Linked DNA regions of Homo sapiens: all the other regions are reported to be linked to region 1. The links are microRNA targets in miRTarBase. Many come from high-throughput screens and were not tested one by one. Region 1 holds a microRNA gene; each other region holds the end of a gene's coding sequence. Distances are between the middles of the regions.

Region 1 (7,163 bases):
AACAGTTATTTAAAATTACCTCATCAGAAGAGAAAAAGAAAAAAAAGGATGAAAAGGAATAAAGAACCTTAGAGGGTCAAAAATACACAATGGGGGAAAAGATGCTTGCTTGAACAAATGATGTTGGGGTAACTGGATATCCACACGCAAAGTAATGAAATCAGACTCTTATCTTACACCACACACAAAAACCAACTCAAAATGGGCTTAAGACTTAAATGTAACATCTGAAACCATAAAACTCCTAGAAGAAAACATAGGAAAAACTTCTTGAAATTGGTCTTGGCAATGATTTTTTGAATATGACATCAAAAGCACGTGCAAGAAAAGTAAAAAACAAACAAACAAAAACAATTAGGACTACATCAACCTAAAAAGCTATATAGCAAATATTTGCAAACCACAAATTTGATGTCAATATTTAAAATATGTAAAGAACTCATAAACTCAATAGCAGAAATACAAATAACCCAATTTTAAAATGGGCAAAGGATCTGAATAGACATTTTTCCAAAGAAGGCATACAAATGGACAACAGGTATATGAAAAGGTGCTCAACATCACTAATCATTGGGGATATGCAAATGAAAACCACAGTGAGATCTCATGTCACCCTTGTCAGAATGGCTATTATAAAAAATGCAAAAGATGGCAATATTGGGAAGGGTGTGGAGAAAACAGAACCCTGGAAAACTGCTGATGGAGATCAATAGAGCCATTATCAAAAATAGTATAGTTTCAAAAAAAAAAAAAAAAAAAGACCTATTCTATGACACAGCAATCCCACTTCTGGAATACTTATCCAACAGTTGAAATCAAGATCTCAAAGGGATATCTGCACTCCTATATTCCTTGCACCGTTATTCACAATAGCAAAGATATAGAAACAAGATAAATGTTCATCGATGGATGCATGAATAAAGAAAATGTGGTATATTATCCAGCCTTTAAAAAGAAGGATATCCTATCATTTGCAGTAACACAGAAGGACCCAAAGGACATTATGTTAAGTGAAATGAGCCAGAAAGAAAAATATCTTATGATGTCACATAAATATGAAATGTAAATTAGTCTAACTCATAGAAGCTGAGTATAAAATGATGGTTAGCTGGGGCTGGTGCTGGGAAAGTAAGATGTTAGTCAAAAAGTACAAAGTTTTAGTTTTCCAGGACAAGTAAGTCCTGGATATCTAATGTACAGCATGGCGACTATAGGTGAAAATACTGTACTGTATACTTAAAATTTGCTATAAGAATAGATCCTAAGTATTTCCAACACACACACACACGCATACACACATAAATGATAACTCTATGATGTAATGCATGTGTTATCTTGATTGTGGTGATTTCCATATATATATATAATCATTAAGTTGAAAACCTTAAATATATACATTAAAAATAGCTAAAGTATTAAAAAAACTCAACAATAAAAAGATAAATAACCTTGAACAGACATCTCTCCAAAGAAAACACACGGGTACTCAACATGCACATGAAAAGATGTTCAACATCATTAGTCATCAGGGAAATGCAAATCAAATCCACAATGAGATGACACTTCATACCCACTAGCATGGCCAAAATATAAAAGGCAAACACAAGTGTGCATGAGGATGTGGAGAAATTGGAACCCTTTTATACTGTCGGTAGGGATGTAAAATGATGCTGCCATTTTAGAGAAACAGTCTGGCAGCTCCTTGAGAGGTTAAACATAGAGTTATCATATGACTCAGCAATTCCACTCCTATACCTGGGGGAAATGAAAACCTATGTCCAAGGGAAATAAAAACCTATGTGCACCTGAAAACTTACAGATGTTCACAGAAGTATTATCTGTAATAGCCAAAAGGCAGAAACAACCCAAATGCTCACCAACAGACAAATGGATACATAAAATGTGGCATATCCTTAAAATGGAATATTAATTGGCCATAAAAATAAGTGAAGTACTGATACATGCTAAACACAGATGAATCTCGAAAACATACTAAGTGAAAGAAGCCAGTGGAAAAAGGTCACATATTATAATTACTCAATTTCTATGAAATGTCCAGAATAGATAAAATCTATAGAAACAGAAAGTAGATTAACAATTGCTTAGGGCTGGTGAGTGGGGGAAAGGTAGGGAGGGGGGTGAGCTAAATCGTATGGAGTTATTTTTTGGATGATGAAAATGTTCTAAATTTGACTGTGGTGGTGGTTGCACATATATGTGAATATACTAAAAACATTCAATTGTACACTTTAAATGAATGAATTATATGGTATATGATTATAACCCAATAAAGCTGTTTAAAAAACAAACTTTGGATAGCTCCTTATTGCTTGATAAATAAAAGTCCAAATTCCTTAATTGGGCATTCAACTCCCTCCCCTCCTGCATCATCATTTGACCCCCGACCAGCATCATTGCTCACTACTCCCTTTTACATGCTTTTCTATCCAACCAAGATGAATTATGCACCATTACCCATATATCCCTTGTGGTCTCCCATCTGTCTTTCTTCTCGCTATTCCTTCCCCCTGAGATTCTCTCCTCCTGACTCATCTTCACATGTTAATATTCTACTTCTTTCACAAAGCCCAGTTCAAATGCTCCCTCCTATGCAAACCCCTCCCTGTTCTTCAACCCTCACATAGTAGGCACTTAAAAAACTATTTACTGAAAGAACGAAGGTACGTAGTTCTCCTATATGATGGCTCTCATTTACAGAGAAGATAATTCTCCCAAAGCCACAACTTTACTTCTTTCTTCCTTTCCTGGTCACAGCAGCAGCTCACTGCTTCAGCCCCCTTACCCTGAGGACAATCCCAAACTGGTACCTTGATGAAGAAAGTACTGACATTACATTATGCCAGGGCCGCCGAGTACAGTTGTGTAGGTTGTGCACTGCACAACCCTAGTGGCGCCATTCAATTATAGTCTATGTGAATGGCACCCTCTCCTAGGGTTGTGCAGTGCATAGCCATTCGTGGCGGCCCTGCTTGGAAACATTCCTAGTGTTTGAGAACAAAGCCAAAAAGAACACTCAATGAGAGAATCACTATGTTGTCGCTGAGAAGTAGGCAACTCAAAAATCTTGTCAAGAAAAAAGAAATTCAAGAGAATAGCATGGCCATAGCACACAAACAGCATTTGCATGGAATTGAAAACAGGAACATCCAAGAGAAAAATTGTTACTGATGTTTCTCCAGCAGTGGAGAGAGAACAGGACACACATTCTGGTCACACTACAAAGCTATGACAGACATGCAAAAAGGTACAGTTTTCCATGGACTACCAAAGCCTATATGGTCTCGCTCATGAGACTTTTCAACTCCATTAGGTTCTGATTTTAGGTTATAAAACAGTCCCTGTTTAATTTGGCTTCAGGTACCTTGATATCAGAAAGGGCTGATACACACAAGTGTTCTCATCTCTATAAAGGTCTCTCTCTCATCATCAATCGACTTATCAGCCTGGTGATTTATTAAGAAGTGTTTTGTAATGTTGGGGAGTGTGACCCAATCCACTAGAAACCAACAGCCCTGGGTAAGCTGATAAAAATTAGGCTTTGAACCTACAAACCAAGTTGCAGAGTTAGGACCCGTGTCAACTCCACCAAGGCACAGACACCCTCAAGCTCAGTCAGAGCAGCTGGCCAACTAGCTGGCCAAGTCAAAACTGCAGCCAGTAATTCAGGGCACTCCAAAATGGAGAGCCATAAAGGACTGGACATATTGGTAGTGACAACAGGTGAGCTGGTGGTAGAGCTCAAGGGTGCCAGATGTTGCGTTTGTTTCTTCTTTTTGTTCCCCACTCCAGTTCAGTTCAGCCTCCCACTTTCATATTTGCTCCACCTGGAATATTTCATTCCACTTCTTCTGTCTCCTCTAGAGATTTCCTGGATAAGTCACAAAAATTAAGCATTCTTTTTCTGAACTCCATTGGTATTTGTTGGTACTTATACACTAATCACTTATTAGTCTCATACTGTTGTTAGTAACAACAATAATGGCAGTAGTTATTCCTTACTGAGTGCTTACTAGGTGCCTGGCACTACAGTCAATGTCTTACACATATTAGTTCATATATTCTTCATAGCAATCCTATTATGTAAGAGATTATTATTTTCCTCCTGTTTGCATACAAGGAAACTGAGCTACAGAAAGGTTAAATAAATTGCCTAAGGTCGCACAACTAATAAGTGAGTCAAAGAGTCAGGCCTGGAACCCAAAACTATCTGATTCCAGAGGTCATGTTTGTTGCCAATACTACCTTTTGTCTCCACCATAAGATAATTTATCTTTTCTGGAGTTCCCTCTGCCTCCACTCCACATAGTGCCTAACACACCATCGGACATATAAAAGTCCTCCAGAACACATGCGCACATCTGCCTCTGCTCCCTGTCCAGAGCCCAGCCCAGGACATAAGCTGGAAGAGAAGGGAAGACGGTGTAGTTAGCATGAAGGGGCTTGACCTTTCAGGGAGCCACAGGAGTCCTCCTCCTCTGACCCATTTAAGAGAGGATCATGCTGCTCCTTGACCTCAATCCCAGAAAAATATGTAGAACAGGATGACCTGGTTACCTTGAAACTCGTCAAGAAAACTCTGAAGTAACAGAGCCTAGGCCAACCCATGGGAGGGATGGATGGTATCCAGTTCCCTGAAGCAAGAGGACCAATTGTGTCAGAGTCAAAGCCACATGGGACAGCTAATGTTTGCAGTGCTCCACCACCAATGAACTCTATGGCCAAAGTTGGGGTTTTTATGATGGTGGGGGAGAGGTGTATTTTTTTTAAAAGAAAGTATTTTTTACACCTCCTTAAGCCTCAGTTTTCTCATTGTTTAAAACAGAAATAAGAATACCTACCATTTGCAGTGCTTCTAAGGCATAAAATGAGAATGTAATAAAAGCACCTATTTCCTGGTGCCTACATCAGTTTGTTCTTCCTGAGGTTCTGAGCACACAGTGATGCAGGACATAATTCCTGTCTGCAAGAAGCTCACAGTCTGGCTAGCAAAGGTCTTCTACGGCACCCTGTCAACCAAAATTAAAGCTGGTTGGTGAGTTAGCCTAACTCTCAGCAAGACATTTTATCAAAGGAAAATTTTGGTGGGAAAGAAGGTAAGAGCTGTTGGCAAGAGTAAAGATTGTGGGTTATATCTTTGCTTTCCTATCTTTGCTGCAAATCTCCCATCCACACCTTTGTATTAAAAAATTGGGAAAGGGGACTCCATTAATCACTGTTTTAAAAAATGATGCATGTAGGCCAGGCATGGTGGCTCACGCCTGTAATCCCAGCACTTTGGGAGGCCAAGGTGGGCAGATCATGAGGTGAAAAGATCAAGACCATCCTGGCCAACATGGTGAAACCCCGTCTCTACTAAAAATACAAAAAAATTAGCTGGGCATGGTGGTGCATGCCTGTAGCCCCACCTACTCGGGAGGCTGAGGCAGGAGAATCGCTTGAACCTGGAAGGCGGAAGGTGCAGTCAGCCAAGATGGCGCCACTGCACTCCAGCCTATGCGACAGAGCAAGACTCCGTCTCAAAAAAAAAAAAAAAAAAAAAAACAGATGCATGTAAATGCTGTTCTTTTCCTTCACAACACATATCACCATTTCTCATTTATATTTAGCTATGTTTTCATTAAATGTTGATCTTCCCTGCTGACCATAAGCTTCTGGAGAGCAGGAGCTGTGTGATGGTCCTCACTGTAGGTCCAGAACTTAACACAGTGCCTGGAACATATGAGATGCTCATCAGGTACTTGCTGAATGAATAAATGAAACAAGATGTCTCCATACAATATGGATAGACTTGGTTACCTAAGCAAAAGCCATTTTAGAATATTCAAGCCTTGTTTATGCATGCAGTAATTCTCAGGATTTCCAAGAATCTGGTAATGGCAGTTTGTTTCTGGGGAGAAGAACTAGTGGATCAGGGGTCAGAGGTTGGAGGGAATCATATATGCTATTCTATTCCTTTAAAATTGTATGAATTTTTAAATAACAACCAAACATAAATATACCAGATATAATGGATTTGCTCTATTTGAAGCCCAAAGAAACAAACAAAACCCAAGCCTTTCCATAGGAAAGCAAAATCTTGGAGGGAAGCGGAAGGAGATTGTGCCCTTGTGTGACTAAAATCCTAAGAATCAGGGGTCCTTAAGAATGAGGTTGATTTATATGTACTAACATGGACTGATGGCTAAGATATTAAGGAAAAAAAAATACAAACATTGTTGAATGATCCCATTTTTAGAATAAAAATATAAAATGTTTAGCATATGCAGAGATAAAAATCAGAAGGAAAAACATGCTTACAATGGATATGTCTGGGAGACCGACTTCTAGGGGACTTTTGTTTGCTATGTGTCATATTCCTATAATGTTCCGGGCTTGAATCATGAACATCTGTTGCTTTTATGTTAGGAAAATACTATTAAAAGGCAATTTCACTAAAAATATAAGTATGGTGCCTAACTCTGCTAACCACCTGGGGCATGAGAAGGGAGTCAGCTGGAAGCTGAGGCAGGTTTGAAAACCTGGAATGCGCTGTCCAAACCACACTGGGAATGAAGCTGCTGTTCCTCCATACAGATAACCCTTCTTCAAGCAACTGGAAAGATTTCTTTTAATCCTCAAGCCACTGTTACAGCCCAGAAGCCAAGCCAGCTGAATAACTGGATTTTCTTTCTTTCTTTCTTTCTTTCTTTCTTTTTTTTTTTTTGAAAGAAAGTTACCTCTCTTTTGTATGCAACAATAATGACAGGGGGGTCACAGTAAGCCTCTTTAAATTCTTAAGCTTTAGTGCTTCTCTGTTCTAGGCAGGTAAAACTAAGGTACAGAAAAGTTGATTCTATTTCCTTCACCTGGCTCAAACAGCCAGAACCAAGTTGTTTGGCTTTGCTGTAAAACCCAGCAGTTCTAAATACTGAATGCACATTAGACTCACGTAGGCAGTTTATTGTTTCATAAAAGAAAAAAAAATTCCTGGGGCCTACTCCTCAAGATGCCTACTCAACTGGTTGGGCCTGGGGCCTGGGCATCAGTATTTTAAAGTGCTCCAGCTGATTTCAATGTACAGCCGGGTTTACAAGTCACTGTTCTACCCACTGCTTAATATCCCAGTAACCTTAGAGAAAGGGACCTTAGTCACCATTTTAAAA
Region 2 (7,000 bases), not on the chromosome of region 1:
ACCATTAAGAAAGAAGAGGTTTAGGCCAGGTGTGGTGGCTCATGCCTGTAATCCCAGCACTTTGGGAGGCTAAGGCAGGTGGATCACCTGAGGTCAGGAGTTCGAGACCAGCCTGGCCAACATGGTGAAACCCCGTCTCCACTAAAAATAGAAAAGTTAGCTGGGTGTGGTAGCAGGTGCCTGTAATCCCAGCTACTCGGGAGGCTGAGGCAGGAGAATCACTTGAACCAGGAGGTGGAGGTTGCAGTGAGCCAAGATCGCACCATTGCACTCCAGCCTGGGCAACAAGAGGAAATTCTGTCTCAAAAAAAAAAGAAAGAAAAGAAAAAGGTTTAAAAAGAAAAAGACAAACCGAACTGGCAGAAAAATCTGACTTGAGCAGCTTCACTTAGAAATTACTTGGGTTCTCTCTAGGAATCTTGTTAGCTGCCCTATTGTGGCTTTTCTTCTTCTTTCATCATTTTTATCTTATTTAGAGTAACACTTCTAGGTTTTCCCATTTTTTAAATACACAAATGGGAGTCTGGTATTATGTATGCAAAAGGACTGGATCTCTGGTTACTTCACAGGGTTAAATTCAATCCAAAGTTCAGACTTTTCTGAATATATAATAATTAAGCAGCTAATTTTGTAGCTCTATGATCAGATAACCTCAGATTATGATGATGCCAGGTTTTAAGTTTGTGCTCTTCTTTTGCCTGTCTCCTTGACAAGTTTTGAAGACATGGAGTTCCTAGAGGTGCTTACCGAGGGACTAGAGCGAGTCCTACTTGTCCGGGGTGGTGGCAGTGAAGTGATCACCATTTATTCATAACCTACTCTGAATGACCGTGCTTGACCTGTTTTCTTAAAAGGCCTACGTCCTCCATGGAAGTGCCAGCTCATTACTACCACTCCCACTCAACTAGAAGCCTGTGTTCTGTACACATCATACTGAACTCTTGATGAGCTGAGCCTCAAGTACCTGTGTAAAAGAGCTCCCATCTGATCTGCAGTCATTACAGAAAAAGCAAATATTCCCTCAACATCAGAACAATGCTCAAGTCTTTCAAGCCACGTCTGAGCAGTCAAAGGCAAATTAGAATTAACAAGCTGAGCCAATAAATGAATTGGTAAAAGGGATGCTAGAAATTCAACTGAAGAAAAAAAGCAAGTCAAGTACGTATTCAGCATTAAAGATGAATCTCAGAAGTCATGGTTCAATGTTGACACTGTGAGGATAACAACTAGAGACAGCTTCATCTTACTAAAGAATTTATGGTCAAGTATATTTGGACCTATTATCCTCGGCAAGCCAAGATGCAAACATTTTTTAGCTATATTTCTTTAGTATACCCACTGCTGTAATTTTATATTAGGATACTAACTTGAAACATGGCTGCAGCCTCTACTTCTTCAAAAACATCCCCCCAAAATACCAGATTTAAATATCCAAATACTGTGTCAGTGTATACTTCAACTGTTTTGTTTCTCTTAACTCAAAACCCATTCTGTCATTGTAACACAGGCAGTGTTACCATGGAAATTGTTTTTGGTAAGGTAAAAATTATTTCTTTCAGGTTCCTTTCAAATGGCCGAACTAAGAGAACTCCAAAAGGAAGCTATTAACATTTACTGAAATAGTCTGTGGTTCTCTATACAACATGGACAAAACATACAAGCTGTTGTCTAAGAAATGCAGGTCATGGTGCACATTAATCAACAGGTTCTTCTCCCCCCGCCCCCACCCCCGCGCCTTTTTTTATGCCCTCTTATTAAGCACAGGTCAAAAAATCTTAAGGAACAAATACTAGGAAAACTGGCTAAACATCCTTCCCTGAAAGCACTGGACCATCTTTTAAAGGGCACATCTAGCAATGGAATTGGAAGTTCTAGAGCCACACTCTTTCTTTAGTGCCAACGTTACTGAGCGGCTACTCTCCTTACCTACTTTACTAAAATGGCATACAGATTGGCATTGACCTGTTGAAGAAATTTTACCACTAAGAAATCTTTTGCCTCATCTACAAAGCCATAGTTAAGACTTGAGGCATTCAACTTAATGCCAAGTATAAGCATTTCCCCCTTTTTCTTTCAATTTTATTCTTCATTCTGACTACAGAAACTTGGCCCTGAACTACGAGATTAGCCAAGCCAACAGTCTTCTAATTTGTTTTCAGAAACTTCAGGCCGGGTGCCGTGGCTCACACCTGTAATCCCAGCACTTTGGGAGGCCAAGGCAGGTGAATCACTTGAGGTCAGGAGTTCGAGACCATCCTGGCCAACATGGTGAAAACCTGTCTATACTAAAAATACAAAAATTAGCTGGGCATGGTGGTGCATGCCTGTGATCCCAGCAACACGGAAGGCTAAGGCAGGAGGATCATTTGAACCCAGGAGGCGGAGGTTGCAGTGAGCCAGGATTGCACCTCTGCACTCCAGCCTGGGTAACAGAGTGATATGTTTCAAAAAGAAAGTTCAGTGTGCCAAGGAAATACTTGTGTAAGCTCAGCTTTTTATTTACTAATATACTGATCAAACATCTGGCTTACAAGCATAGGGAAACTACTTATGTGGCTGGCTGAGCAGTAATTTCAAGTATGTGAAATCTTCATTTCTTTTACAGAATAGTTATTTAGAGAAACTTTTCTTGCCTGTATTCATGGCTGTTTTTGAATTTCAATTTATTAGTCATAAATAGTGCCACTCTTCTTTGATTACTAAATAGGACATGGAGCAAGCTGACCTAGGTGTCACAAATTATTCATTTGACCTGTAAGGACAGAGAAAACCCTTCAATATAGCTTAAGAAATTGAGTAATTTTGGGCCGGGTGCAGTGACTCACGCCTGTAATCCCAGCACTTTGGGAGGCCGAGGCAGGCGGATCACGAGGTCAGGAGATTTGAGACCATCCTGGCTAACACGGTGAAACCCTGTCTCTACAAAAATACAAAAAAATTAGTCGGGCATGGTGGCGGGCGCCTGTAGTCCCAGCTACTTGGGAGGCTGAGGCGGGAGAATGGCGTGAACCCGGGAGGTGGAACTTGCAGTGAACCGAGATTGCACCACTGCACTCCAGCCTGGGCGACAGAGGGAGACTCCATCTCAAAAAAAAAAAAAAAGAAAGAAAGAAAGAAATTGAGTAATTTTGATTTGTTCCCTTTGCTTGCTTCAACCTCCAGGCCCACTGAGGATGGCAAAGCGGATAGGATCTTAAGTCTTTTTTTCTGTTACTTCCTACAGATGGTAGAAGCATTATTTACAACTCCCACTGCAACACTCCATTGCTTAGTTGAGTTTAACAGTAGTGAGTCATGTCCTGCAGGATCCAGTATCTTTTTTTTTTTTTTCCGAGACGTAGTTTCGCTCTTGTTGCCCAGGCTGGAGTGAAATGGCACAATCTTGGCTCACCGCAACCTCTGCCTCCTGGGTTCAAGCGATTCTCCTGCCTCAGCCTCCCGAGTAGCTGGAATTACAAGCATGTGCCACCACACCCAGCTAATTTTGTATTTTCAGTAGAGACGGGGTTTCTCTACTGAAACTGATGTTGGTCAGGCTGGTCTCGAACTCCCAACCTCAGGTGATCCGCCCGCCTTGGCCTCCCAAAGTGCTGGGATTACAGGCGTGAGCCACTGTGCCCAACCAGGATCCAGTATCTTAAAGGCCCATACTGTAAAGGTCAGCCTGCCTAGGAATTCTGCCACATTTACACACACCCCTGGCCAAAGTAATATTTTTTTTTTCCATGTAGAACAAATTATGGGCAGAAAGTAAAGTTAGTTTTAGAAGTGCTGTTTGTGGTTGGAGAATTGTAAAAATCTTTTAAAGGGATAAGGGAATTAGTGGCTTTTAATATAACCACTGCTTCAGCCCGAAACACAAAATCACTGTTACATGGAAAACTGGTTATTAGGCCAGATTTATATTCATGTCTGTCTAGAGTATTTCATGTGTGTATGTGTTGCTTACGTTGTCTGTCTCCAAAGTCTCTCATCTCTTTTAATCACTGCAAATAAAGCAATACTGAAAACTTGAGAGAATGCACCTTAGGGGAAGGGGCTATTTCAAGACAGAAAACAAAGGAAATACCTGCCTTTTGAATAAGATCCCGCTTTTGAGTCTTACCTATGACTTTACCAGGGTAGATTAGAAATACACATCCTCCTGCTGACCCTCTGCCTTCAATAGCTATCTATCTTAAAAGCTGAAGTTTGAACTGCAGCATCTGCTTGACAGGTGCCAGGTTCCTTCGGCAGGGGGACGATCACTCTATATATCTTCCGTTGCCTCAGATTCCTGTGGCCCAAGGATCCCACCAATCCTCGTTCCCCCTAAACATGCTAACAAAAATCCCTTATCGTGGGTATTAAAATAATAACAGTTACACTGTATGCATATTTATGTGCTCCTTTTGTCTGGTTTTTCTTTTCATCATGTATAAGCTGAATTCAGCATTAGTTTCTCACATCTTCCCCCAGGTATCCCCAACAGAATTTTTATGTCCCAGCTTGTATTAAATAGAAGTGAAATATTAAGGAAAATAAGGAACTTGTGCAACTTTTTTTATGCATTGTTCTCAACCATTTAATTTATTGAAAGGAGATGCTGCAACAGTTCTTGATTTAGCAGCAGTTATTCTCTTGTTTACATAGTTATGTTTTTTTGTTGTTGTTTTGCTCTGTACTGGAAACAAAAATAAAGTTTTCTACATTATTTTCAGCCTTGGGTTATGGTATAGTTTCTTTGTGTTTGTCGTAATATGCACATTGTCCTTCTAGGACCTGTCACCCCACCATGGAGAAAAGAGTCTTTTGGTTCTTTTTAACATAAGTGATTAGTTTAAGAGTATGCTGAGGAGCCACTGGGCTTAAAGAAGGATGTAAATAAGACCCAAATACATAGGGACCAGGCGCTGCTTTCTCATGTTCACAAAAGCAGTCCTCCACCACTGAACTCCATTCTCTGAAAGAAGAAAGAAAGAATAAATAGGTGAGTGGCAAATGAGTGTTAAAATAACTTCCTGAATCAATTACTTAATACTTTAACCACAAGCTCTATTTTGCCTATCCTTAAAAAAGAACTTCCAGGCCAGGCGCAGTAGCTAATCTTAGCTAAACACTTTGGGAGGCCAAGGCAGGCAGATCGCTTGAGCCCAGGAGTTCAAGACCAGCCTGGGCAACATGGCAAAACCCTGTCTCTACAAGAAATACAAAAATTAGCGAGCCATTGGGGTGCACACCTGTAGTCCCAGCTACTTGAGAGGCTGAGTGCCTGAGCCCGGAGGTTGAGGCTGCAGTGAGCCATGATCACATGACTGCACTCCAGCCTGGGTGACAGAGCAAGACCCTGTTTCAAAAATAATAACTTGGCCAGGCATGGTGGCTCACACCTGTAATCCCAGCACTTTGGGAGGCCGAGGTGGGTGGATCACCTGAGGTCAGGAGCTGAAGACCAGCCTGGCCAACATGGTGAAACCCTGTCTCTACTAAAAATACAAAAATTAGCCAGGTGCAGTGGCAGTTGCCTGTAATTCCAGCTACTAGGGAGGCTCAGGCACAAGAATCGCTTGAACCTGGGGGGCGGAGGTTGCAGTGAGCCAAGATCACACCACTGTACTCCAGCCTGGGCGACAGAGTGAGACTCTGTCTCAAAATAAATAAATTAATTAATTAATTAAAAATAATAACTTAAAAACTCCTAATGGCTCTTATTTTTTAAGAAACCCTAGGCCAGGCGCAGTGGCTCACGCCTGTAATCCTAGCACTTTGGGAGGCAGAGGTGGGCAGGTCACTTGAGGTCAGGAGTTCAAAACCAGCCTGGCCAACATGGTGAAACCCCATCTCTACTAAAAGATACAAAAAAATTAGCTGGGCATGGTGGCAGGTGCCTGTAATCCCAGCTACTTGGAAGGCTGAGGCAGAATAATTGCTTGAACCCAGGAGGCGGAGGTTGCCGAGATCATGCCACTGCACTCCAGCCTGGGCGACAGAGCAATACTCCGTCTCAAAAAAAAAAAAAAAAAAAAAAAGAAACTCAAATACCAACTCCAATTTCCTACCATCAAGTAGGTCAGCTATTCACTGTATACTACAACTACCCAAAATTCAGCTTTTCTTTTGCCTTACCTCAGGGGGCTCAATGAAGGCTAACCAATCCGATGCATGTGTAGGTAACAGTCCCATGGACTGGCACTTGTAAACAGCCAATGCCAAACCCATCAGGTTCCCAATGAGATAGACCAAACCCTGAAGAAACTTCTGGCTTGAACTTTCTAACATCTTGAAAGCTGTTGCGGTAACAGAAGTTGTCAAACCAAAAGAACTCTTTCCCCCAATACGAATCAAGCCAACTGTATATTAAATTCATATAGACAGACCCATAGTAAGACAGCAAATAGGACCATTAAAGGCAAACAGAAAACCATGGTAAGCACTACACTCCCCTCCATGCCACCACCATTACCCCACTCCCCTATATACCTGTTAGCCAAAAACTGTCCCTAAGAATTTACCTTTAATTCTTCCTTTTTTTTGAGATGGAGTCTCGTTCTGTCACCCAGGCTGGAGTGCAGTGGCACGATCTCGGCTCACTGCAACCTCTGCCTCCCAGGTTCAAGTGATTCTCCTGTCTCAGCCTCCCAAGCAGCTGGGATTACAGGCGTGTGCCACCACGCCCAGCTAATTTTTGCATTTTTAGTAGAGACAAGGTTTCACCATGTTGGCCAGGCTGGTCTCGAACTCCTGCCCTCAGATGATCCACCCAGCTTGGCGCCTCCCAAAGTGCTGGGATTACAGGCGTGAGCCACCATGCCCGGCCTGCCTTTAATTCTTCAAACTTATGGAAGGGTTATTGTTTCAAGAATACTTACTGGCTGAAATGGCCATAAGTGCCTGAATGGGTCGCCAGGCCATCATACACACCATCATAGTAGGGAAGATGGAGATAGTATTGCCTGCCATGTACATGATGAAGAGATTCATGGGAATCTGTTTGAGGGGACCCAAGGCGATGTCCCAGCAG
Region 3 (7,155 bases), 8.6 Mb from region 1:
TGGTTATCCACATGCAAAAGAATGAATCTGAATCCCTACAACACACCATATACAAAATTAGCTCAAAATGGACCAAAGACCAAAAGTAAGAGTTAAGATTATAAAACTCTTAAGAGAAAACATAGGTGTAAATTTCTGTGAAATTGGATTACGCAAGGTCTTCTTAGATACAATGCCAAAGCACAGGCAACAAAAGAAAATATAAATTGGACTGCATCAAAATTTTTAAAAACTTGAATGCTTCAAAGAACACCATCATGAAAGTGAAAAGGCAACACACAGAACAGGAGAAATATGTTTAAATCATATACTTGCATCTCGAATAAAGAACCCTGCAACTCAACAATAATAGTAATAATAGTAAAGCAACCTGATTTAAAAATGGGCTAAGGGGCTGGGAACGGTGACTTATACCTGTAATCCCAGCACTTTGGGAGGCCAAGGTGGGTGGATTGCTTGAGGCCAGGAATTCGGGACCAGCCTGGGAAACATGGCGAAACCCCAATTCTACAGAAATTAGCCAGGTGTGGTGGTGTTCATCTGTAGTCCCAGCTACTTGGGAAGCTGAAAAGGGAGGATCGCTTGAGCCCGGGATGGGAAGGTTGCAGTGAGCTGAGATCGCACCACTGCACTCCAGCCTGGGCAACACAGCAAGACCCTGTCTCAAAAAAGCAAATGGTCTAAGGACTTAAAAGAGATATTTCTCTGAGGAAGATACAAAAATGGCCAGTAACCACATGAAAGAATTCTCAACATCATTAGACATCAGGGAAATTCAAATGAAAACCACAAAGAGATACTACACACTTGCTAGGATGGCAATAATCAAAGAGGCAGATAATAACAAGTGTTGTCAAGAATATTGAGAAACTGGGACCCTCATACATTGCTGGTGGTAATATAAAGTGGTGCAGCTGCCGTGGAAATCAGTCTGGCAATTCTTCAAAAGGTTAAACATGGAGTTACCATATGAACCAGTCATTCCACTTCTGTGTACATGCCCAAGAGAACTAAAAACATGTCCACACAAAAACTTGTGAGTGTTCACAGCAACATTATTCACAGTAGCCAAAAAGTGGAAATAACCCAAATGTCCATCAACTGATGAGAAGATAAAATATGGTGTATCTATATAATGGATTATTATTTAGCCATAAAAAGGAATGAAGTACTGATACATTCTACAACATCGATGAACTTTGGAAATATGCTATGTCAAAGAAGCTGGACACAAAAGGCCACATATTGTATGACTGCATTTATATGAAATGTCCAGAACAGGTAAACCTTGTAGGGACAAAAAGTAGATTAGTGGTTGCCAGGGGCTGGAGGATGATGACCGGTAGGAGTGACTGCTAATGAGTATGGGGTCTCTTTCAGGTGATAAACATGTTTTAAATTGTAGTGATACTTGCACAACTCTGTGGATGTAATTTTAAAAAACACTGAATTGTGTACTTTAAATGGGTAAATTGTATGGTATGTGAATTATATCTCAATAAAAAGGAAAAACAAAGCAAAAAAAAAGAACATTGGAAAAGTTTTAAAATGCTATGCACAGAGGCAAAATCTTAGAACTTAGCCACGACTCCCATTAGGAGATGAACAAACATAGATACACTGTTTTTAGACAGTGACCATTAAGTGCTTAGAAAAAAAAAAAAAAGATAAATAAAGCACTCTTACTCACCAACTCCCAAGACAGGGGTATAGCCTTGTTACACAAACCCACTCCCCACCCACAACCAACTTTTACTCCTTTCCTCTCCTTGTCTTTTGATAGCTGAACTAGTGTACTGTTAGAACAAGACTGAGACTAAAGGTAGCCCAACATTTTGGAGATCAGAAGCCCAAGACATATGTCTAATTATCAATGTTTTGAAGAGTTTGGAAATTCCTATTAATCCATTATATCACTCAGGTTCTTCATCTCAGAGAAAGCTAATATCTCATGGAACAAACCTGCACATGTACCCCCTGAACCTAAAAGTTAGAAGAAAAAAAGATACGAAATAGTTTTTTAAAAATGTGCGTTCTTATTATCATGACTTATCTAGTTTCTTAATTAGAGTCATCTCTAGTTCTAGGATGATGTGTTGTTGGTCAAGGTTCCAAGGACATTACTACCACTGCTGCTTTCTGTTTCACTTTTGAAAATATATAATATTTTGATAGGCAGCCAAATCATATAAATACGGTAACAATAACAATCCCATCTATATACATGATGCCAGTGGTGACAACTGGTTACTAGGAAAATTTCCATGGAATTTCTTATTTTCTCTATGGTTTTTCACCGTAGTGATAAACTAACACTACCAAGGGTGACTTAATCACATTTCACAGTATGTCCAAAGACTATCAAAACAACAACTTCTAGGGGAAATTGGACTCAAGCTTAACTGCAAAACAATCAGTATAGGAGAAATGTATTCTTTGGTGTTAATTAATTTGTAGAGGACAAATCACTTCAAGAAATCATTAAACTATATACACTTTAATGCCTAATACATGTAGTGTTTAAAAAACAGATTTACCTAGCTTTCTCTGTTCGAGCCCACCTTGTTCTCTACAGCTTGCTACCTTTAGTCTGAGAGTTGGAAAAATAAATCTAGTGAGCTTGTGCCATGACATGGCAAACTCCCTGGCCACAGGACACAAAATTATCTTTCACATTTCTTTTTTTTTTTCCCTTGGCCATCCAATGAGTCTTACCTAGTCCTTCCATATATGTCTCTGGGACTCGTCCTTTCTTCTCCATTCTTGTCATATCACTCACATCTAGAGGTTTATTGAATTTAGTTTATTGCAATATCTATGTAACTGGTTTCCTAATTTCCATGTCTCTCTACCTCAAATACATCTGGCAGCAATATAAAAGATTAAATTTCTAAAAATAACATTTAATTAAGTAATCTGTTTAAAAACCTTGGCTAGCTCTCTCATGCCTATTGAGTAAACTCCAAATACCATTAGCCTGGTATTCAGCGCCTTCCAAAATCTCAGTCCGAATGTATTTTATTTCTTTTTTCTTTCTTTTTGTTGTTGTTGTTGTTGTTGTTGTTGACAGAATCTCACTCTGCCACCCAGGCTGGAGTGCAATGGCATGATCTAGGCTCACTACAACCTCCACCTCCCGGGTTCAAGCGATTCTTGTGCCTCAGCCTCCCAAGTAGCTGGGATTACAGGTGTGTACCACCATGCCTGGCTAACTTTTTTTTGTATTTTTATTAGAGACAGTGTTTTACCATGTTGGCCAAGCTGGTCTTGAACTCCTGGGCTCAAGTGATCTGCCTGTCTCAGCCTCCCAAAGTGCTGGGATTACAGGCATGAGCCACCACGCCCAGCCTGTATTTTCTAGATTTATCATCTACCACCTCTTGGACAAAACTGGTCTCCTTACTATCCCCTGAACCTCCACAAATTCTTTTTGCACCTTTGCTTATGGTGTTCCTCCTGCCTAGAATACCCCTCTCCATTTTTGGAAGCCTGTTCAAAGCTTAACTTTTCTTCACTAAACCCTCCCTGAACATTTACAATTCACAGTGATCTCTTTCTTTGAATGTGATTTGAGTTATGAATGCTGTCGTTCATTTGGCAATACTCACATATGACTTCTCCTGTCTTACATTGTTAATTCTTGTACTATTTAATTTTGTGCGTCTTGCTTTCTCAACTAGACTGCGAGATCCTTGGCAATAGGGGCCATTTATTACATTAAAAAATCTACCCACAGTGCATATTGCTGTGCTAGGGGCTTTGACAGGGACTAGTTACAGACAGAAGAGTGCTGGAGTCTCCTCAAGATGCCAAACTCTCAGAATGCAGCATTTACTAGAGGTGATGATTCCTCACACATACATATCAAATATAATCACTTTAAAGGTGAAACTAACTCTACAGGTTACTCTAAGATATTAAGGAATTACAAACTGCCTTGGAAATACTTGTAAAAGTCCCCTATTAAAATACAAAATTAACTTTTAATAAATAAGTTCATGCTCTCCTGAAAGCTTAAAAATGACATATAAAGAAAAAATGGGCTGGACGCGGTGGCTCACGCCTGTAATCCCAGTACTTTGGGAGGCTGAGGCGGGTGGATCACAAGGTCAGGAGTTCGAGACCAGCCTGAGCAGCATGGTGAAACCCCGTCTCTACTAAAAATACAAAAATTAGCTGGGCGTGGTGGCACCTGCCTGTAATCCCAGCTACTCAGGAGGTTGAGGCAGGAGAATCATTTGAACCCGGGAGATGGAGGTTGCAGTGAGCCAAGATGGCGCCACTGCACTCCAGCCTGGGTGACAGAGCAAGACTTTGTCTCAAAAAAGAAAAAATGGTACCCCCCAAAAAATAAAAATAAAAATGGTCAGGCCAGGAGCATAATCTCTAGGATTTACTTGATCACAAAGTGCTCAAAAAGCCAAGGCCCCGTGCAATCCATTTATATTTTAGTGACTGTTTTTTCATCTGTAAAAGAGGCTAAACCACATAAGGAAAATAAGTGTAGGCTGGGCAAAGTGGCTCATGCCTGTAATCCCAGCACTTTTGGCAGATCACGATGTCAGGAGATCGAGACCATCCTGGCTAACACAGTGAAACCCCGTCTCTACTAAAAAAAAAATACAAAAAATTAGCCGGGCGTGGTGGCAGGCGCCTGTAGTCTCAACTACTCGGGAGGCTGAGGCAGGAGAATGGCGTGAACCAGGGAGGCAGAGGTTGCAGTGAGCCAAGATCGCGCCATTGTACGCCAGCCTGGGCGACAGAACGAGACTCCATCTCAAAAAAAAAAAAAAAAGGAAGTCTAGAACCCGAGTTCCCATAGAAGGCAGCCAAAATGATTTGGATAATTCAAGCTAAAAAATGTCATTCACATCTTGGTTTCTCCTGAATTATTTAGGCAATCTGAGATTTCTTCATAGACAGAAATATAATCCCAAGCTAGTTTGCCAAATCTGTGGTGGTTTTCTACATTGACCCAAGACATGCTGCAACCATTAAGTTCTAATCAAAATGTTTATTAATCTTGTAACTGAAGAAAATAATCATTACAAAACTCCTACCTCAGATTGCTGTAAAAGCTTTGAAGTTCTGTGGGATGTACTGACTGCAATCTCAGAAATGTTTTATCTTTGTAGATGGCCCCAGATGATAAAGCTTTGGCAACAAATGCTGCTTGCCCTGTATAAATCCCTTAGATGTCTTGTATGTAGAAGGGAGACCTACTAGATTACCTAGCGTCATCAGATCATAACATATATATATGGTATCTCAAGCTTACTATTATATATATGTTATATATACAGAGTCTCACTGTCGCCCAGACTGGAGTGCAGTGGCGTGATCTCAGCTCACTGCAACCTCCACCTCCTGGGTTCAAGCGATTCTCCTGCCTCAACCTCCTCAGTAGCTGGGATTACAGGCATGCACCACCATGACCAGCTAATTTTTGTATTTTTAGTAGAGATGGGGTTTCACCATGTTGGTCAGGCTGGTCTTGAACTCCTGACCTCATGATCCGCCTGCCTCAGCCTCCCAAAGTGTTGGGATTACAGGCATGAGCCACCGTGTCCAGCCTAAGCTTCGTATATTTGTAAATATATCCTTTCCTTTTGAAATTTTCTGTGAAATAATGCTTTTGGTTCCTTTAGCCCAGCCTTGACTACTAATTGGCAAGGATTCAAATGATCTCCCCAATTTTAAATATCCGTGTATTACGGAAATGTTATCAATTTTCTTCTCCTCCTACCAAGGATTAGTATGATAATGAATTGAGCTTCTTGTCAAGAAAAATGCTAAGTTCAAAGTATTATTTCTTTCACTTCTAATTACAAATAAGTTTTACCTTTTATTGTATTCCATTATACAATTTTACATAGTACCATTATTTTAAGCAATAATTAAGCAAATTGAACTACTGTTTTTGAGCTCTACTTTTCAGCATATAGATTTACCTAAAAAAGTACAAACCAAGCACAGTGGTGCAATTTTCCAGGCACTTTCAAGTTGCTTATTTACAAATATGTAAGCACCCTGTTGGAACACATGAAAATTTTGGTGTCGAGAAGAAACACTCCATGTATATCAAATCTTTAAATTTTAACATTTGCACAGCTCCAAATATTCCTGAGAAAGGTCAGTCTCATTGTCACGTACATCTGCATTTCCTCACACTTCAGCGTATCTTGGGGAACCATAACCTCGGTCACTTGATGTACCACTAATTGCACAAAATACATGTAATGTGTTGCTCATCCAGGGAGAATGCATTGTGTCTTCTTGTAATATCTAAAACAGAAGAAATCAGCATGATTATCATGAAGCAAAATAGCCACTGCCAAAAAAAGAATGTGTATATGAAATTGCAGGCATATTTCAATTTATCACTGACAGTTATTTAAAAAGACAGAAAGCAGAGAGAGCAAAGAATAACATTACCGACTTAAGTCTTCAAAGCTGTATTACAAAGGCAGCATATCAAAAAAGCAGAAAAGATCTAGTTACTCATTAAGAAAAACAAAGACTGTAAAATGCAAAATTCAATAAAAAGCGAGAGGTAACACAATCTTTAAAATATTTTTTAACAGATGGTCATAACAAGAGCTCTAAATGGTAGACTCTGACATGAGTTTATGAATGATCTAACACAGTGGTTCTCAGAATCATCTATGGGACTTTTGAAACATGCAGATACCTATGTTCCTTCCCTGGAGACTTGAAAATAATAGTAAATGAAGATAAAAGTCTTAAGTGCATATTTCTAAAGACACATTATAATTGTATAAGCTAATTGATACAGAAGATTTTTCTTGGAAAGGAAGAACTTCATAAATATAAAATTTAAAGATTGTATTCCAGTAAGTATATAAACATAGATATTCGTATTAGTTTAAATATTTTTTAAATGATCCATTTTGTGTAATCTAAAGAAAAAGCAACAGAAATCTTGTGCTTAAAGTAGATTGAGGTAAAAAACGCTATATACATTATATCCACTCTCTTTACCATAAAGTCCTAACTTAGGTCCCAAGCTTTCAATACTTGGTTCTCAAGTTAGTTGTGAAACTTCAGTATTAAGCCCACAGATTGATCTATAGTGGCAGTATTGAGACATATCATTTGTGTTGCTACAAATCATAAGGCTTAAATAAAATTTAT
Region 4 (7,163 bases), not on the chromosome of region 1:
CTCCAGCCCAGGTGCCACTGGGCATCTATCCACAGAGCACATAGCTGTACCCGTAGATGACTCCCCCTCCCCAGGTCAGCCTGCGATGTTTCCCCTTAGTCCTCATGCGTACTGAGCATCACATGGGCTGCTTGGGAGAGGTGGAGATAAGGGAGGGGGGCTGGTTCAGAACCCAGGTCTCCATTCAGATCCTGGCTGGCCAACACCCTGGGGCAGAGTGGCCACACCCCTGGTGCCACAGTCTCCTGTCTTGGCCTCCCTGTGGCCAAAATCTACCCTTGGCCACCTCAAGCATGGTAGTGAGGAGTCAGTGAGCTATAGTACAGCAGGAGCACCCAGGGCCTGGCATGAGCTCAATTCTGTATCACTGACTCAGGCCTCCTAGGAGCCTTGGAGCATTTAGTCAGTCAAGTGTCACAAAAGAATGGAAAGTGTCAGCCCTCTAGGAGTTGGGGGTGGTCTGGAAGGAGAAAGCTCTTCCAGGCAGAGTGGGGCTTGGCGCACACATCATTGCTGGTGGTTGGATGTTGGCCTTCTCACATGGCAGTGGGCGGAATTTGGACTCCACTCCGCCACTCCCTTCCTTTTTTTTTTTTTTTTTTTTTTTTTTTTTTTGAGACAGAGTCTTGCTCTGTCGCCCAGGCTGGAGTGCAGTGGTGCAATGTCAGCTCACTGCAACCTCTGCCACCTGGGTTCAAGCAATTCTCCTATCTCAGCTTCCCGAGTAGCTGGGACTACAGGCACACACCACCACACCTGGCTAGTTTTTATATTTTTAGTAGAGACAGGGTTTCACCATATTGGTCAGGCTGGTCTCGAACTCTTGACCTCAGGTGATCCACCTGCCTCGGCCTTCCAGAGTGCTGGGATTAAAGGTGTGAGCCACTGTGCCTGGCCACTCCCTTGAGACTCAGTTTCCACGTCTGTGAAATGGGGGAATACCCACAGTGAGAATTAGATGAGATAGATGCATTTGAAACCACAAATCGGGGTGCCCACCTGTGGTGGGTAGTTAGGTAGCTGTTACAAAGTGCCCCAGCAGAGACCCCCTTGACTAACTTTTATTCTTCCATCTTTTCCCACAGGTGGCAGCTGCCAACAAGAAGCATTAGAACAAACCATGCTGGGTTAATAAATTGCCTCATTCGTAATCCTGGTCTGGGTCTCTTTTTTGAGTCTCTTGCTCTGTCGCCCAGGCTGGAGTGCAGTGGCGCCATCTCAGCTCACTGCAATCTCCGCCTTCTGGGTTCAAATGATTCTCCTGCCTCAGCCTCCCAAAGTGCTGGGATTACAAGTGTGAGCCACTGTGCCTGGTCTGGTTTGGGTCTCTTGATTGTTCTTCAGGGGCATGAGGAAGAGGCGCTTCCTCCCTTCCCTTGGGTGAGGGGGCCCAGGGTGATTGGGTGGCTGTTTACCCGGCAGCCAGTCGGGCCTTCCCAGGTCAAACAGTTCCCATCTGGGTTTGGAGGAAGGACCCAGGGGCCCTTGTGGCTCACTCCCCCACATCCTGTCTTTGCAATTGTCAGAAAGTGAGAAACGAAAGGATGGCTGTGAGCTGTGACCTCAGCTGGGCCTGGGCTGCAGAGGTGGCTTCCGCTGGAGTAAAGCAAGAGGGCCCAGGGTTCATGCTCTTCCCTGGAAGGTAGAAAAGGACAGACCACCAGGGAGCCTCCACCGCAAACTGACCTGTGCTGCCTACACACTAACTTTCCTGGGCCTGGGGCCTGCACAGGCTGAATGGTCCTTGAGCCTTCACTCTGCATCTGAGCGGTCTTGGGCCCGCTGAGTGGCAGTGGCAGGAAGTCGGTGGAAGCAGATCCCTGTGCAGAAGTTGAATTACCAGGGCGGCCACACACGGGCTGCACAACCTTTGCAGTCGTGCACGGCAAGTGGGATGTGGCCTCCGCCCATGATTGGGCACCTGGTCAGGCTGGGAGATCCAAATAGCACCCAGTGGGCAGCTGTCCGACCCCTGGAGGGGCAAGCCAGGAAAGAAACTTAGGGCCCGCTGTGACCAGATGTCCCTCCCAGTTGGGAAGACTAAACTGGTTTGGCCAATATCTCCCAGGATTCCCCTGTCCAAATTATTCCTGGGATCTGACCCATTTCCTGGAAAGGGGCGAGCCTGGGTTTTGAAGTTCAAACTAGAGTTTAAATCACAACTCTGCCCCTAATCCCACGTAACCCTGTGCACCTTATCCTCTGAGCCTTCGTCTCCTCGTGTGTAAGCCTGCTAACTCCTGAGAGACTGGACAAGATGCCGTGGAGAGCCTTGGCTCTGAGTAGCTCTGCTGCTGGACAGTTCAGTTGGCAGTCCCCAAACGTAAGGCGTAAGAGTTTAAGAAGTATCGGCCAGGCACAGTGGCTCACACCTGTAATCTCAACACTTTGGGAGGCCGAGACGGGCTGATCACCTGAGGTTGGGAGCTTGAGAACAGCCTGACCAACATGGAGAAACCCTGTCTCTAAAAATACCAAAATTAGTTGGGCATGGTGGCGCGCACCTGTAATCCCAGCTACTCAGGAGGCTGAGGCAGAAGAATCGCTCGAACCCCGGAGGCGGAGGTTGCAGTGGGTTGAGATCGAGCAATTGCAATCCAGCCTGGGCAACAGAGCGAGACTCCATTTCAAAAAAAGAATCAATAAAAATGTTAAAAGCACCGTTGTTTACACTCAGCAACTCTGTGAAGTAAGTGCCGAAAAGTGCTTTGGAGGTAGGTAAAGTAAGCCATAGGCTGGGTAACTTGCCAGATATCCCACAGCTGGAGCCATCATATGAACCCAAGCAACCCAGCTGCAGCCTGGACCTAGCCACTCCAAGGGCTCTGTGCCTCAGAAAAGAGGCCCAAAGGGTTGCACTCTAGCTGCAGGCCAGTCACTCCCCATTCTGGGCTCTAGTTTCCTCTTTTGGCCATTAATGAAAACATTTCCCAGAGCTGACATGAGAACTCAATGCCAAGCGTCCGGTTTGCACAGCAGCAGGCATTGCGCTTCCCAGGTAGGAAGCAAGGTCTAGGTGTCCCGAGCAGGCCTGCAATCCCGCAGCCGCGCCGCTCCAGCCACTGGGGAGCAGTAGAGGGCCTAGAAAGAAGCTCAGCCACCGAAGGCTCTTGAAGGTGAATTCCTAGGGCTTCCAGGTCTGGAGCCAGGCTTATTCCTGGGAGGGGGTTGTAACGGGGAATTGAAGTGCAGAGGGGCTAGTGACCCCAGCAGAACACCTGGGGTCCTGGTTCCCAGGGCTACAGAACTGTCCTAGATACTGTGCCAAATGCACTGCAGAATATTCTTGCAGTCTTATCAAGTGGGGGGTTTGTACCCATGTTATAGGAGAAAAAACTGAGTTTCAGATGACCAGTCAGTTGGCAGAGCTGAGTTGTAAAAGAATCCTGGACTCTTGAGGCCCAGGCTCTTCTGCGTGGATGGGAATTGCCCTTTTCCCATCTCCTGGGTTCACGCCATTCTGCCTCAGCCTCCCCAGCAGCTGGGACTACAGGCACACGCCGCCATGCCCGGCTAATTTTTGTATTTTTAGTAGAGACGGGGTTTCACTGTGTTAGCCAGGATGGTTTTGATCTCCTGACCTTCTGATCCGCCCGCCTCAGCCTCCCAAAGTGTTGGGATTACAGGCGTGAGCCACCGCGCCCAGCTGGCAATTGCACTTTTTTAAAATTCTGCACTCTAGGAGGCAGAGGTGGGCAGATCACTTGAGGTCAAGAGTTTGAGACCTTGGCCTGGAGTGGTGGCTCACACCTGTAATCCCAACACTTGGAGAGGCCGAGGCAGGTGGATCACCTGAGGTCAGAAGTTCGAGACCAGCCTGGCCAACATGATGGAACCCTGTCTCTACTAAAAAATACAAAAATTAGCTGGACGTGGAGGCAGGAGAATCGCTTGAATGCAGGAAGTGGAGGTCACAGTGAGCCAAGATTGCACCATTGTACTCCAGTCTGGGCGACAAGAGTGAAACACCGTCTCAAAAAAAAAAAAAAAAAAGAGTTTGAGACCAGCCTGGCCAACATGGTGAAACCCTGTGTCTATGAAAAAAAAAATTGGCTGGGCATGGTGGTGCACACCTGTAATTCCAGCTACTTGGGAGGCTGAGACAGGAGAACAGCTTGAACCCAGGAGGCGGAGGCTGCAGTGAGCCAAGATTGTGCCGCCACTGCACTTCAGCCTGGGCAACAGAGCAAGACTCCATCTCAAAAAAAAAAATCTGAAATACTTCAGGCATGCAAGTATTTAGCATTCAGTATTCATAATGTAAGAAAAACCTATGAAGCACAACCCAGTTTAAGTAACACAGGCAGGGCAGGGTGCAGTGCCTATAATCCCAGCACTTCGGGAGGCCAAGCTGGGAGAATCACTTGAGGTCAGGACTTCCAGGCCAGCCTGGGCAACACAGTGAGACCCTGTCTTTACAAAAAATTTAAAAAATAGGCCCAGTGCGGTGGATCATGCCTGTAATCCCAGCACTTTGGGAGGCCGAGGCGAGTGGATCATCAGGTCAGGAGATTGAGACCATCCTGGCTAACACGGTGAAACCCCATCTCTACTAAAAAAATACAAAAAATTAGCCGGTCATGGTGGCATCTGCTTGTAGTCCCAGCTACTCAGGAGGCTGAGGCAGGAGAATCACTTGAACCCGGGAGGCGGAGGTTGCAGTGAGCCAAGATCACACCATCGCACTCCAGCCTGGGCTACACAGCGAGACTCTGTCTCAAAAGAAAAAAAAAATTAAAAATAGCCAGGCATGGTGTGTGCACCTGTAATCCCAGCTACTTGGGAAGCTGAGGCAAGAGAATCACTTGAGCCCAGGAGTTTGACGTTATGATTATGCCACTGGACACCAGCCTTGGTGACAGAGAGAGGCCCTATCTCTAAAAAAGAAAAAAAAAAAAGTGGCCAGCCACGGTGGCTCCCGCCTGTAATCCCAGCACTTTGGGAGGCTGAGGTGGGTGGATTACCTGAGGTCAGGAGTGTGAGACCAGCCTGCCCAACATGGTGAAACCTGGTCTCTACTAAAAATACAAAAATATAGCCAGGCATGGTGGTGGCCGCCTGTAATCCCAGCTACTGAGGAGGCTGAGGCAGGAGAATCACTTGAACCTGGGAGGCAGAGGTTGCAGTGAGCCAAGATCACGCCACTGCACTTCAGCCTGGGTGACAAAGCGAGACTCCGTCTCAAAAAAAAAAAAAAAAAAAGTAACACAGGAAATAAAACCAAGACAAGATGAGCTCTCTGTGTCTCTGTGTGTCCCTCCCCAGACCCAACCCTGGCGTCCCCCAGAGGTAACCCCTCCCAGGAACTGGGCGTTTGCCACTCCCCTGCACGGGTCTACACCTCTGCTACAAACGTGTGTCCCTAAGCAGCGGACGCCTTTTGAAAACAAGTCAACTGTATCATGCTACGATATTTTTTCTGATGTTTGTGCTGTTTCTGAGACAGCCTTATGACACCTTCCCCTATTCTGTAGCATTCTGTTGGCTCACTTTGCCACAGTGTATGCACCCATTCTCCCACAAATGGACTTTTCATTTGCTTCTCAATGTTTGCTACCAAAAATCTCCCTGCAATAAATTTATTTTATATATCCCCTTGTATGTGTGTGAGGGTCCCCTAACTGCTCACAAATATCTCAGCAACTCCGCCCTCCCCACTCAGACCTCATTTCCCTCCTACCAGACATGCTCAAAGGAAACTGGGAGCAACACAAAGATGACTTTGAATCTCTGTCCACCACCCCTAGACTGTATGACACCCGCAAGTGACAACCTCCCCTCTCTGGCCTCGGTTTCCCCCTCTGTAAAATGGGGGATGGCCTACCTTGCCAGTCATGGCAGGTCAATATAAAACAACTTCTGGCTGTGCACAGTGGCACATGCCTGTAATCCCAGCACTTTGGGAAGCTGAGGCAGGAGGATTGCTTGAGGCCAGGAGTTCAAGACCAGCCTGGGCAATATAGCAAGATCCCATCCCTCTTAAAAAAAAAAAAGAAGAAAAATATATGTTGTTGTTGTTATTATTGTTATTATTAGAGACAGAGTTTCGCTTTTGTCACCCAGGCTGGAGTGCAATGGTGTGATCTCAGCTCACTGCAACCTCCACCTCCTGGGTTCAACTGATTCTCCTGCCTCAGCCTCCTGAGTAGCTGGAATAATAGGCATGTGCCACAACATCTGGCTAATTTTGTATTTTTAGTAGAGATGGGGTTTCGCCATGTTGGCCAGGCTGGTCTCAAACTCGACCTCAGGTGATTCTCCTGTCTCAGCCTCCCAAAGGGCTGGGATTACAGGCATAAGCCACCATAGCTGGCCTGTTTTTTTAAAAAAAGAATTCCAGTAAAGAGCTGATCATGGTTCTCACTCCTTGAATACCAGGAACACCATCTCGTATCACATAATGAGACAGGGAGACATTCTGGTCCTCATCTCACAGATGAAAAATGTCAAGCTTCGAAGGATCAAAGTGCCCACCTAGTCACACGGGTAGTCAGCCACAGGTCAGCCTGCCTTATTTATTCTTCATGAGTATTTATAGTGACTAACATTTACTGGGCGCCTACTGTGGGCCATTTCTGTGCATGTGACAACCCCTTTAAGTCCTTGTTTCTAATCCCAAGAAGCAAGGAAATGGGGTCAGGGAAGGGACAAGGTTTGCCCAAGTCCAGGCAGGGGGAGAGGTCAAGCTCAGAACCATCACCTGCCCATGACACATGCCCAGGACTCAGGTTCCCTAGGCTTCCTTCCAAAGGCTCAGCAGTGACGAGCCAGCCCTTGAACCAGCCTCTTCCCCCACCCAAGCAGCCACCTCTCAGGGGAATTGTGGCCACCACAGGTGCAGGGAGCAGTTTCTCTCCACTCACAGCCTGAAGCATACCCGGCAGGGGCTGTCCCCAGGCCCAACAAGCAAAGGGCCCAGTAGCGAGGGCCACTGGAGCCCATCTCCGGGGGGCTGGGCAGGAAGTAGGGTGGGGTTTGGGGTAGGGATCTGGTACCCTGGGACTGCTGCAACTCAAACTAACCAACCCACTGGGAGAAGATGCCTGGGGGTCCAGGAGTCCTCCAAGCTCTGCCTGCCACCATCTTCCTCCTCTTCCTGCTGTCTGCTGTCTACCTGGGTATGTGGCCAAAGGGCAGGAACTGGCGGGAGGTGGGGGAAGCTG

What was found. The annotated mature microRNA hsa-miR-652-3p reads AAUGGCGCCACUAGGGUUGUG and lies in region 1 at 2,899-2,919, opposite strand. An mRNA with a match to its seed (bases 2 to 7 or 8) in the 3' UTR can be bound and repressed. Matches are read on the target gene's strand: a 7mer-m8 pairs with bases 2 to 8, a 7mer-A1 pairs with bases 2 to 7 and ends in A, and an 8mer does both.
Region 2: the mRNA of SLC12A6 is a reported target of hsa-miR-652-3p. The part of its 3' UTR that is shown has no 7-base or 8-base seed match.
Region 3: miRTarBase lists DOCK11 as a target of hsa-miR-652-3p. The part of its 3' UTR that is shown has no 7-base or 8-base seed match.
Region 4: miRTarBase lists RPS19 as a target of hsa-miR-652-3p. Seed matches in the 3' UTR shown: 7mer-m8 at 1,211-1,217.

The regions. Positions count from the first base shown.
Region 1 is chrX:110,051,145-110,058,307 of GRCh38, reverse strand. It overlaps MIR652 (microRNA 652), which reads right to left and starts at 2,979; the gene lies at 2,882-2,979. The region is part of intron 2 of TMEM164 (transmembrane protein 164); the gene reads right to left.
Region 2 is chr15:34,227,695-34,234,694 of GRCh38, reverse strand. SLC12A6 (solute carrier family 12 member 6) reads left to right here. Exons shown (of 26, transcript NM_001365088.1): 26 at 723-4,911. The coding sequence ends at 814. EMC4 (ER membrane protein complex subunit 4) reads right to left here. Exons shown (of 5, transcript NM_016454.4): 3 at 6,849-7,000; 4 at 6,106-6,266; 5 at 4,539-4,942. The coding sequence ends at 4,907. Among named protein-coding and RNA genes, the nearest start is that of EMC4, 6.2 kb to the right of the region's middle.
Region 3 is chrX:118,684,818-118,691,972 of GRCh38, reverse strand. DOCK11 (dedicator of cytokinesis 11) reads right to left here. Exons shown (of 53, transcript NM_144658.4): 53 at 5,826-6,285. The coding sequence ends at 6,166. Among named protein-coding and RNA genes, the nearest start is that of IL13RA1, 39 kb to the left of the region's middle.
Region 4 is chr19:41,870,266-41,877,428 of GRCh38, forward strand. RPS19 (ribosomal protein S19) reads left to right here. Exons shown (of 6, transcript NM_001022.4): 6 at 1,086-2,660. The coding sequence ends at 1,112. CD79A (CD79a molecule) reads left to right here and starts at 7,014. Exons shown (of 5, transcript NM_001783.4): 1 at 7,014-7,118. The coding sequence starts at 7,040. RefSeq lists enhancers at 1,211-1,280, 1,521-1,780, 3,094-3,343, 5,679-5,748 and a silencer at 7,156-7,163.